Homo sapiens: one gene and its partners. The protein of the gene in region 2 interacts with the protein of the main gene of each other region in a pairwise test. Each region holds a gene or a part of one and is shown on either strand. Other genes may lie near its edges. The genes, in order: FKBP8, TMEM43 and ZCCHC12.

Region 1 (3,745 bases), on a different chromosome or scaffold from region 2:
CAACTCAAGGCCCCAAGGGCTGTGACTAGGATTCCACTTTACTCTGAGGAAAACTGGGACCCATGGAGGTTCTATGGGAGGAGGTTTCAACACTGGGCCAAGCCGGGCACGGTGGCTCAGGCCTGTAATCTCAGCACATGGGGAGACTGAGGCGGGCAGATCACTTGAGGTCAGGAGTTCGAGACCAGCCTGGCCAATATGGCTAACCACATCTCTACTAAAAATACAAAAATTAACTGGGTGTGGTGGCTCGCACCTGTAGTCCCAGCTACTTGGGAGGTTGAGGCAGGACAATCGCTTGAACCCAGGAGGAGGAGGTTGCGGTGGTGAGCTGAGATCACACCACTGCACTCCAGCCTGGGTGACAGAGTGAGACTCTGTCTCAAGAAACAAACAAACAAACAAACAAAAAACACTGGGCCAAAGGTTGGGGACCCAAGACTCGAGGATCAAATTCTGGCCTCAGCCAATGAATTGTTGTGACCAGGCCACACTCCTGCACCCGTCTGGGCCTCAGTTTCTCCACCTGCACCCCACAGAGCTCAGCTGGCTTATATACCTATGCCTTTCTCAAATGCAGGGTTGGGGACCACCCCGTATACCCCAGGCTGAGTGACCCGGCCTGGCACCCCGGTGTGGCCTACCTTGCCCTTGCGGAAGAGAGCCTTGATGTTGTCTGGCTGGTGCTCCAGCACAAGGCTGCAGGAGCGCAGGGCTGCGCGGTAGTGGTCGAGCTTCAGCTGCGAGGCCGCCAGGTTGTTCAGACACTTCACCTTCAACTGCAGGAGCTGTGCCTCCTCCTCGAACGTCATGTCCACTATTGGGAGACAGTGCCCGCCACGGCAGCCGTCACCATGCCACCAGACACCCCGGCACCCACCCCTCTGCGGAGGCTGCCTCTCTGGCCTCAGTTTCCCCAATTTTAACCCCGGACCAAGGGCCACGCTTTCCTGGGGCTCTCCTGAGGAAGCTACAAGATGGAGACTTAAGCAAGCGAGGGCCTAGCCTGTGGTACATGTGAACTGGCCCTGTCTATGGTCACCCCATCCCCATATCCACTTGCATTCTACAACACTCCACTGGTCTGGGATATACCACGAGTCTGTAACAGGCCCTAGCTTAGGGGCAGTTGGGGATCTACCCATATTCTGGGCTATTCTAGAATATTCTGAGTCTGAGGCTCTCTGGGGCTGGAAGTTTCTGGCACGGAGTGGACACCTTTGCAGGGGAGATGGTGGAGATCTGACCCAGGCGGTCACCTTTGGCGCTGGAGGTGATAGCCTTGATGGCGAGGTCGTAGGAGTTGGCGGCCAGGACGAAGTCCGCCCGCTGGTAGTGGGCGTTGCCGCACTCCCGCTTCCGGTTGGCCAGGGCCACGCGCTCCTGCCCCGTGAGCATCTCCAGGTCAGGCCCGTCCACAGCCGTCTTCAGGGTCACCTCCAGGCACAGGGCCGCGTGCGGGGGGATGTATGGGCTCCTGCTAGTTGGGTGGGAGCAGGCAGGGGCAGCACTCAGACCTGGTGACCCCTAAACCCGCTGGGCTGGCTAGGAAGGAGTGAGCTTGGCTCAAGCCCCCGATCTGTCTCCCCTCTGCCCTCCATCATTCCCTCCTCAGTAAAGTGCAGGGGAAGTGACTTGCCGCCTTGGAGCTGCGGGACTTGACGAACGAGTTCCCCTCCCTAAGCCTCGGTTTTCCTCCTTTTTATTAAGAGACAGGTTCTCACTCTGTTGCCCGGGCTGGAGTGCAGTGGTGCAATCTTGGCTCACTGCAGCCTCAAAAACGTGGGCTCAAGTGATCCTCCTGCCTGAGCCTCCTCAGTAGCTGGGACTACAGGTGTGCACCACACCCAGCTTTTTTTTTTTTTTTTTTTTTTTTTTGAGACAGTCTTGCTCTCTTGCCCAGGCTGGAGTGCAGTGGTGCAATCTCGGTTCACTGCAAGCTCCGCCTCCCGGGTTCACGCCATTTTCCTGCCTCAACCTCCAGAGTAGCTGGGACTACAGGCACCCACCACCACGCCTGGCTAATTTTTTGTATTTTTAGTAGAGACGGGGTTTCACCGTGCTAGCCAGGATGGCCTTGATCTCCTGACCTCATGATCCACCCGCCTTGGCCTCCCAAAGTGCTGGGATTACAGGCGTAAGCCACCACGCCCGGCCCACACCCAGCTAATTTTTAAATTTTTTTGTATAGAGATGCGGTCTATATTGCTTAGGCTGGTCTGGAACTCCAGGTCTCAAGCAATCCTCCTACCTCAACCTCCCAAAGTGCTGGGATTTCAGGTGTGAGCCACCTCACCCAGCCTCAGTTTCTTGTCTATAAAATGGGCAAGTAGATGGGGTGAGCCGAGGGGTACACCCACTCCACCCATCCCCCTCCTGAGACCTGCAGAGACCTAAGGGTGGCTGACTCTCACCTGCCTTGGGGGCCGTAGCAGTACTTGGAGTCAGCAGTGACCATGGCCGTCTCCCCCACGTCCATGAGTGGGACACTGAGATCCAGGGCCTGGGGTGTGTGGGGATAGCCAGCTGTCAGGCAGACTCAGACCCAGCAAGGCACGCCCCTCGCCCCTGCCCTGTCCCGCCCCAGCCCGCACCTGGATGACGTCACAGTCACCCAGAGTGAACACCAGCTCCGGCTCCTCCTGCACCCGTGTGCCATTCTCCAGCGACGTCTGCAGATGTACGGTGACCACCTGGCCCTTGACCGGGCGGCTCGAACCTGGCGGCCCTGGGACCAGCGTCTTCTTCCTCAACAGCCCGTTCCCTGCCAGGGTCCAGGGACATGCAGCCTGTCACCTGGCAGCTCAAACAGGCACCCGCTCCCCTGAGCCCCCACTCCTACCCTCAGCTCTGCCCACTAGCTGTCCAGAGGGGGCTGGCCCAACACTGGGGCACAAACCAAACTTCCAATGGCCACTCTGCCACCAGAGTGGGGAACCCCACGTGCAGGACACTGGGCAGGATGGGACAGACTTCAGGGTGACAGTGCTGGTGCTAGAGACCAGCTCAGTGAACAATGGTTGGTCTGGTTTTTTTGTTTTTTTGTTTTTTTTTTTTAAGAAAACTGAGACTTGCCGAGTTTCCATCTATTTGAGAGGCCAATGTGGGAGAATCACAAGTTCAGCCCAGCGTCTGGGCAAAATGGCAAGAACCCAGTCTCCCCACCCTCCTCAAAAAGAAAGAAAACCAAAGCTCAGAGAGGACAAACAGCCCTCAGGCTGAAATCCTTGCCCTGAGATGTTTGGGCCTCGGTTTACCCAGCCATGAAATGAGGTGCTCATGGGACCTTTGGTTAGCAGAGCCCCTGTGACACAGTGTCCCCACCACAGCACCAAGTGGGATGAATTTATAAGTTAAGCAAAGGACACACATGGTGGCTCATGCCTGTAATCCCAGAACTTTGGGAGGCTGAAATGAGAGGACTGTTTAAACCCAGGAGTTTGAGACCAGCCTGGGCAACATAGTGAGACCCCATCTCTACAAAAAATAAAAAATGACCAGGCATGGTGGCTCACACCTGTAACCCCAGCACTTTGGAAGGCTGAGGCAGGAGGATCACTTGAGGTTAGGAGTTTGAGACCAGCCTGGTCAACATGGTGAGACCCTGTCTCCACTAAAAATACAAAAATTAGGGGCCAGGTGTGCTGGCTCACACCTGTAATCTCAGCACTTTAGGAGGCCAAGGCAGGTGGATCACCTGAGGTCAGGAGTTCGAGACCAGCCTGGCCAATGTGGTGAAACCCTG
Region 2 (3,745 bases):
TGTGGAGGTGGGAGAAGAGCCTGAGGGGCGTAGCCGAGGCATCCTGGACCTGGGCCTGGGCCAGCTACTCCGTTCCTCACTCTCCCTGCTTCTCTTCCACCCCCAGGTGGGAGACTTGCGTGTCTCCTTTTCCTATGCTGGACTGAGCGGCGATGACCCTGACCTGGGCCCAGCTCACGTGGTAACCTGGCTTCCCAGGGGCAGACACTAAGTCAGAGCCTCACGACTTTCCTGGACACAGACACCTTGGTCAATGTCAGGAGCGCTTGGACCCCCTTTTCCCTGGGGAAAGGCACACTCTCGCACACACTCTCAGCCAGGCACGCTTCTGAGCAGTTTCAGAGCTCCCATGTCCCCACAGCCATCCATGGACCCCACGTTAAGAAGGGCAGCTCAAAAGGGGTCTCATAGTCGCACCTTATGACAGGTGTTCCAGTCACACACAGACCCTCTCCCCAAGCCCGTTTTGATCTGTCAATAATTGGTCTTGCGTTCCTGGCCTATGTGCAGTCCTGCCCCATCCCCTGCTCTGCGCACTGCCCAAGAGCTTTGAATGCCTGGAGCTTTGAATGGAGCAGCTCAGCCAGAGCTGCAGAGGTGGATGCATCCCAGATGGATGTATAGAGAGAGAAGCCCCAGGGTTTCTGTGCTCACTTCCCCAGCCGGCACCCAGTCCCGGGAGGGTGGGCCATGGCTCTCGTGGGCGTGTCTCCCGCTGGTCACCCCTCAGCTCTAACACCAGGTCCTCTGACCAGGTCACTGTGATTGCCCGGCAGCGGGGTGACCAGCTAGTCCCATTCTCCACCAAGTCTGGGGATACCTTACTGCTCCTGCACCACGGGGACTTCTCAGCAGAGGTGAGTGCTGTGCCCTACTCGTACGGTGGAGGAACAAGCATGTCCTTCCTTCCTTCCAGTGGTTATTTAATAAGATCACACTACCAGGGGTCATAGCCAGTGAATGAGGCAAGAAGAAGAAATAGCGGAATGTTGAGTATGCCTCATCAAAGTGTTTGACCAGGAGTGTTTCAGATTCCAGATTTTTTTGGATTTGCAGGTATTTGTATATACATAATGAGATCTCTTGGGGATGAGAACCAAGTCTAAACACAGAATCTATTTATGTTTCATGTATACTTTGTACACATCGCCTGAAGGTGATTTTATACAATGCAACCCGTCACATGGGGTCAAGTGTGGGATTTCCACTAGTGGCGTCATGTTGGCATTCAGAAAGTTTTGGATTTTGGAGCACTTCAGCATTTGGGTTTTTGGATTGTGGATGCTGAGTCTGTCATGAACCCTCAGTGTGCAGGACTGTGCTAGGCACTAAACTCACTGTGCCTCACAGACTGTCCGGTAGAGGAGTGAGAGTGACAGAAACTCGTAAGTACTGATGCATCGTGCCGAGTGTTGGAAAGAGGAGAACAGGTGCTCTGATACCAGTGGACGTCAGAGTAGAACATCCGTTTCTGCAGTGATCAAGCAGGGCCTCTGACAAGTGAGTTTTGCTGACGAGAAGGGGTTAACCCTAGAAGAATCAGTGATCAGTCAGTTCCAGCAAGAACAGCCCAGTCTGGGCACGAAAGGGTTCACCTTCTAAGGGGGCACCCGGAGTGCTGTGGCCACAGCCCAGAGCGGGGAGAGGGAGTGGGTGGGGGGGCTCCACCAAAGTCTGTGTCCTTCCAGAACATTAGGAGGGCGGGGAAGGGTTTTGGGCCTCAGCTACCTGAGTATCCCTCTCCCATTGTAAATAGGGAGGGCTATGCCTACCCCGGGTCCCAAGGAGAAGGGGTGCCAAGATGTGCTGATTAGTTCAGTTCTGTGCCTTAAAAGTTAGCCTGTCTTCTCTAGGCAGGCAATCCTTCTCTGCAGCAGAAGAATTGAGTCTTTAGTTTTTCTGTTGTTGATGAACACAGGTATCCCTGGTGGGGCACTCTATACCTGCCCTAACCAGGACTGCTGGGGTTTTCATTCCAGAGTGGCCAGAAAGGGTCAAGGCAGCAGACAGGCATCAGGGGTTAGCTGTGACCTTTTGTTCCTATTATTAGATCCTCAGCAGCCATCTGTCCCATTAGCCTCCAGCTTGTGGTGGTGCTTGGGCCTCACCAACTCCTGGTACCTGGCCAGGGCTAGGGTGTGGTCAGGCTGTTGCCCAGGAGCCCAGTTACCAACCTCAGGGTAGGGCTGCCACCTCCCAGCCTAGAAGGCCATGAGTCACCCTTCCACCAGCAGCTGAGGGTCCCCAGCGAGTTTCTAAAATTAGGAGGCCCAGTCCAGGCCTTGCTCTCTCTCCCAGGGCTGAGGCCCAGCTCACGCAGCCGCCCCTCCAGAGAGGAGTGGATGGGGCCCATGGCTTAGGTAATGCCCCAGAAAGGAAGGCCCTGCAGTGCAGATGCTCAGGCGGCCTCCTTACCCCCTGGGTCTCCTGCTGCTTAGCAGCCCCAAAGCCCTGTCTTCCCCCAGCCCAGCCCCCACCCCCACACAAGGTCTGGGGTCTCTGCCAAGTAGAAAAAAGGCCCAGAGCCAGGCAGGCAGCTCAGGGCAAAAGTCAGGATGCCCCGATTCCAGTCCCAGGGGCAGGAGAGTACAGCTGCCCAAGCAGGCACACTGCAGACGGCCCTGGCACTGCCTCCCACCTGCTACAGGACCTTGAGCTGGTGCTGATCTCTCAGCCTGTTTCCTCATTTGTGAAGGGGAAGATGTTTAAGTACTATTAGTAATAGTCACATCATCCCTAACTGGTTTGGTCATTGAGGATTATTCATTCATTCAGCAAGTTTTCATTGAACACCAGGTACTTCACAGACATGCTCCCTGCTCTTGGAAATGTAGCGTTTAGTTAACTGCTTGAGGTGAGACCTTGGGCACATGACTTATTCTCTCAGAGCCTCAGTTTCATCATCTGTAAAGTGGAGGTAAGTATTCCTACCTCACTGAGTGAATTTGAGAATTAAATAATACTTGTAAAACACTTAGGACAGTATCAAATAAATGGTGAGTGATAAATGTGACCTGTTTTTGTTGTTACGGACTCTGAGAGAGGGCCCGATTCAGATCAGAGGGTCAGGGAAAGCCCTCTGAAGAAATGGGGTTCAAGCAAAGCTCAAAAGAATATGTAGGAAGCTGGCCAGGCATGACTGCAGGCAATCGTTGTAGGCAGAGCAAACCCACGCGCAGATACACAGGCGAGAGGACACTTGACCTGGACTGGGGACAGCAGCCAGCAGGGTCAGGGCACTGGCAGCAGGGTCGGTGTCCGGGGGGTGTGGCAGGGCTCTGGCAGGTGACTGTGTGGAGAACACAGAGTGGGTGATAGAAGCAGGGCCAGTGAGGCTCCTGCGGGCAGACAGTGGTAAGAGACTCGGGAATATGTGGCCTGGACTGGATGGGGTGGTAGGGGAGGAGCGAGCCATGTCTTTCCCATAGATGTGAGTGGGTGGGTGGGTGTGCCATGTGCTGAGATGGAGAAGGCGCCAGTGTCAGCACTAGACAGGCTGAGATGTCAAGTGGAAATGTCAAGGAGGTGGTGGAGGTGGTGGGAGCTGCAGGGCTGTGAGGCCCGGGAGAGGGCCAGAGCTGCAGCTTTAAATTGGAGGGTCACGGCATGTGGAGGCCAAGGAAGCAGATGGGATGTCCGGGGAGAGAGTATGGACTGAAGCAGCTAAAGAATTGCAGCATCTAATGGACAGGAAGAGGGGCAGCGACAGCGATGGAGCCTGAGAAGGAGGGTGCAGTGTCCCCAA
Region 3 (3,745 bases), on a different chromosome or scaffold from region 2:
CACACTTAGGTTAGGGTTGGTCGCCTGAAGCACACGCATGACCTCGCGGGCAGGGCCCCTAAGGGTTTTCATCAAGCGCTTGAGCTTTTCCTCCTCAGACATATTCCAATCTGGCAGGACGCCATTGACTTGGGTCAGCCAGTTTTCAAAGGTTTCTTCCCCTTGGGCTGGCACCACCCTCCCCGAGAACAACTTCATGTTTCTGTCTGCCATGCTGGCCATTATAGGACCGAGACTTCTCCCCAGGGACCTCAGCATGGAATGGGCCCAAGGCGGCAAGGGTGCATTCAGCCGCCGGCTGTTACCGACACGTGCAATGATGCTAGCCATGACTGACGACGATAGGGTATCTGAATATAAGAAGATGCCTAGGCTTTTTAGAAAAGCTTAATCTGCAGGTGGGAGAGGAGAGGAGGTGGCTCTGCCTTCCTATCTCAGCAGGGGCTGTAAAAAAGAAAGGGGGGCTGGTTAATAAGGGAGCGGGCTGCAGCTGCATTCTCTTCCTACCTGAATATCCTGCAGTACATTTTATATTTGCCCACTACCCTAAAAATAATCCTGTAGGAGATTGACACTTACAACCTCCCAGAGCTACCCGATGCCTGCGTGCTAGCAAGGTGCTTTTTGCAGCCACATCCATCCCTCCCACCAGTCCTCCAAGAGGGACGGTAACTGTTGCTTCAAATTCTAGGTGTAGCAGTGTCTGGAGCTGATATTGGGCTCTCCAAATAGAGTACAATGATCGCAGATTTGTGGAAATAAAATAAGATCTCATTAACCTCATGGTCTCTGGTCTCAACCACACCCCCTTCTCAAAGTGCCCCCCACGCCCGTCCCCCTTGTTATTTCTCAGATTCTTACACGAACTCTGAAACAAGAGCGCGTCTTTATTTCACTTCCAGCCTCTGCAACCAGTGCCCTCCGTGAGAAAGCTCCTCTCCGGGGTACGGTCAACCTCTGTCCACAGGGGGTCGCAGATCCGGGTCCTTGAGGTTTCAAGATTGCGCCACAGCGGAGAAGGCCAGAGAAGGGAAGGGTTAGAAGCAGCTTCACCCGTCATCCTGCTACCCACCACCTCCGCTGTTGCCAGGCGAAAAATTCTCTCTGCCCCCTCCTGACTATAAGCCAGAGACCAGCCCCCCACCCTCCAGCATTACATTTCCCCCGGGAAGCCGTCGGCCTACCAGCTCTGCAATCAGCTGCACAGAATTCAAGTTCAGATGCGGCTTTGATGGCCTGCCACGGAGAAAGGGAATAGGAGTTGGACACACCCACCCACATATTCCTCCCAGAAAGAGATGAGGAGATGCAAAGGATGTTCGAAGCAAACAGCTCGAGATTCCTCCCCCCGCTACTCCTCGCCTCTCCTCCCACCCCCAAATCCAGGCAAATCCTACCTAGCCCGCAGTATCCAGGTGAACCCCACCTCCTCCCTCAGCGCAGCCGGGCCACGAGAGTACTCCTACCCCTGCCTCACAGTCACCGATTCTCCAAGCTGGGAGCCGCCCAGTACTGGTGGGTCTTCCCCCACCCCTCTCCCCGCCGGGCAATCACACCCCCATTCTTTACCTGTGCTCCGCTGGTGGACAGCAGATGCTCCCGCGTCGCCAGCTGTGGATTCCGCCTTCTGGTCTCCGCCTTGCAGGCGGCAAAGAACTGAAGCCTCCTTGGCCGCTAAGCGACCCGGGGCTGCCCGAAGGAGCTGCTTCGCAGGGCCGCCCAACCAGGGGTAGCAGAGACGAGGCAGCGCCGTTCCTAAGGCAGCCGCGGCGGCTTTTATCCTCTGCCAGCTGAGACAAAAGAGCGTGACGAGCGGGCTAGTGCGGCCAATCAGCGAAGTGCGGGGGCGGACGCCCCGCACAGCCTTGGGCAGAGGCGAGTTTTCGCCTGAGGGGGCGGGGGCGCAGCAGGCCCGCGGAGCGTCAAGTGCAGCTTGATTAGACCGATGGAGCCAATCTGCCTGGGAATTTGCGACTCTTTCTTCCTCCCCCAACCCGTCCCTTCTCCCTGGGCTCAACTCTGCATCTTAGGCCAGGTGCATTAAACACGAAGTGGGTCCAAAATCAAGTGAATAATAAAAGTTCTTCACCTTGGTATAGGGAAAAGACGGGGAAGAGGGGAAGGGGCGGGAAGAGCATTAGCACGTGCATTGCGGAAACAGGCTTTCACACACATCTCCTCTTTTACTGTGAAAGAAGTAGCAGTATGTCCATTTAACAGAGAGGAGAGCTGGAGAACAAGGCTCTCAACCAATACCCATTCAAGTATGGGGGCAAGACATCAGAGTCATTTGGGGGAGCTTGTTAGAAATGCAGTCTTCTGGCCGGGAATGGTGGCTCACGCCTGAAATCCCAGCACTTTGGGAGGCCGAGGCGGGCGGCTCACGAGGTCAAGAGATCGAGACCATCCTGGCCAACATGTTGAAACCCCGTCTCTACTAAAAAGACAAAAAAAAAAAAAAAAATCAGCTGGGCATGATGGCGCGTGCCTGTAATCCCAGCTACTTGGGAGGCTGAGGCTAGAGAATCTCTCCAACCTGGGAGGCGGAGGTTGCAGTGAACCAAGATCGCACCGCTGCACTTCAGCCTGGCAAGGGAACAAGACTCCCTCTCAAAAAAAAAAAAAAAAAAAAAAAAAAAAAAAAAAAAAGGAAAAGAAAAGAAATGTAGGCTCTGGGCCCCAACTCTGGTGGATTCAGATTTACTAGGACTAGCGGTTGTGATGTGGTTTTGTATTTAGTATTTTTAACCGGCGCTGCGGTTGGTTCTGAGTTGTAGCAAGGTTTGTGAATAAGTAAATGAGCCTGTCTCCAATATCTGTCCACAGGTATCTGTGGTGAAATGCAACTCCAGAGCAGATGTGCCTACCTGGAATCCATGATCTTCCTGAAATTGTATGCAAAGATTTCGGACTCTGTATGAAGCTAAATAATGGCCACCCAAATGTATCAAGTCCTAATCCCTGAAACCTGTAAATGTTACCTTATAAAGTAAAATGGTCTTTGCAGGTGTGATTAAGTTAAGGCTTTTTGACTTAATTTTCCAGGCAGGCTGAAATCTAAACCACAAGTGCCCTTATAAAAGAGGGAGAGTTGGTGCACCAAGAAGAGAAGGCAATGACCAGAGATTAGTGATGTGGCCATAAGCAGAGGAATGCTAGCAGCCACCAGAAACTGGAAGAGGCAAGGAATAAAGCACAGTCCTACTGACACCTTGAATTCAGCCCAGAGAAACAGATGTTAAGCTTCTGGCTTCTAGAACTGTGAGAAATTAAACTTCTCTTGTTTTAAGCCAAGTTTGTGATAATTTGTTACAGTGCTGTTTTAGTCTGTTTGGGGTGCTATGGCAAAATACCATAGACTGGGTGGTTTATAAACAACAGAAATGTATTGCTCATAGTTCTGAAGGTTGGGAAGTCCAACTTCAAGGTGCCAGCAAGGTTGGTTTCTCCTGAGGCTTCTCTCCTTGGCTTGCACATGGCTGCCCTCTTGCTTGGCCATCCTCTCTGTGCATATGTGCCTCTGGGTTCTCTCAGTGTGTCCAAATTTCCTCTTCTTATAAGGACACAAGTCAGATTGGGGCCCACCCTAAGGGCCTCATTTTTACCTTAATAACCTCTTTAAAGGCCCTATCTTTAAATACAGTCACACTCTAAGGTACTGAGGGTTAGGATTACAATGAATTTGGGGGAACATAATTCAGCCTGCAGCACTCCATTTTCCCTTACTTCTGGTTCTGGGAAAGCA

The links.
Region 1: the proteins of TMEM43 (region 2) and FKBP8 interact in binary tests that used the Homo sapiens proteins (3 or more experiments, as listed by UniProt).
Region 3: the proteins of TMEM43 (region 2) and ZCCHC12 interact in binary tests that used the Homo sapiens proteins (3 or more experiments, as listed by UniProt).

What each region holds. Positions count from the first base shown.
Region 1 is NC_000019.10:18,536,957-18,540,701, forward strand, and holds part of FKBP8 (peptidyl-prolyl cis-trans isomerase FKBP8), read right to left. Parts: intron 2,765-3,745; coding exon 2,595-2,764; intron 2,504-2,594; coding exon 2,415-2,503; intron 1,481-2,414; coding exon 1,260-1,480; intron 818-1,259; coding exon 645-817; intron 1-644. UniProt on the Homo sapiens protein: Constitutively inactive PPiase, which becomes active when bound to calmodulin and calcium. Seems to act as a chaperone for BCL2, targets it to the mitochondria and modulates its phosphorylation state.
Region 2 is NC_000003.12:14,135,052-14,138,796, forward strand, and holds part of TMEM43 (transmembrane protein 43), read left to right. Parts: intron 1-106; coding exon 107-181; intron 182-755; coding exon 756-857; intron 858-3,745. UniProt on the Homo sapiens protein: May have an important role in maintaining nuclear envelope structure by organizing protein complexes at the inner nuclear membrane. Required for retaining emerin at the inner nuclear membrane.
Region 3 is NC_000023.11:118,821,830-118,825,574, reverse strand, and holds the start of ZCCHC12 (zinc finger CCHC domain-containing protein 12), read right to left. Parts: upstream 1,752-3,745; 5' UTR 1,570-1,751; intron 1,237-1,569; 5' UTR 1,185-1,236; intron 987-1,184; 5' UTR 862-986; intron 445-861; 5' UTR 331-444; coding exon 1-330. UniProt on the Homo sapiens protein: Transcriptional coactivator in the bone morphogenetic protein (BMP)-signaling pathway. It positively modulates BMP signaling by interacting with SMAD1 and associating with CBP in the transcription complex.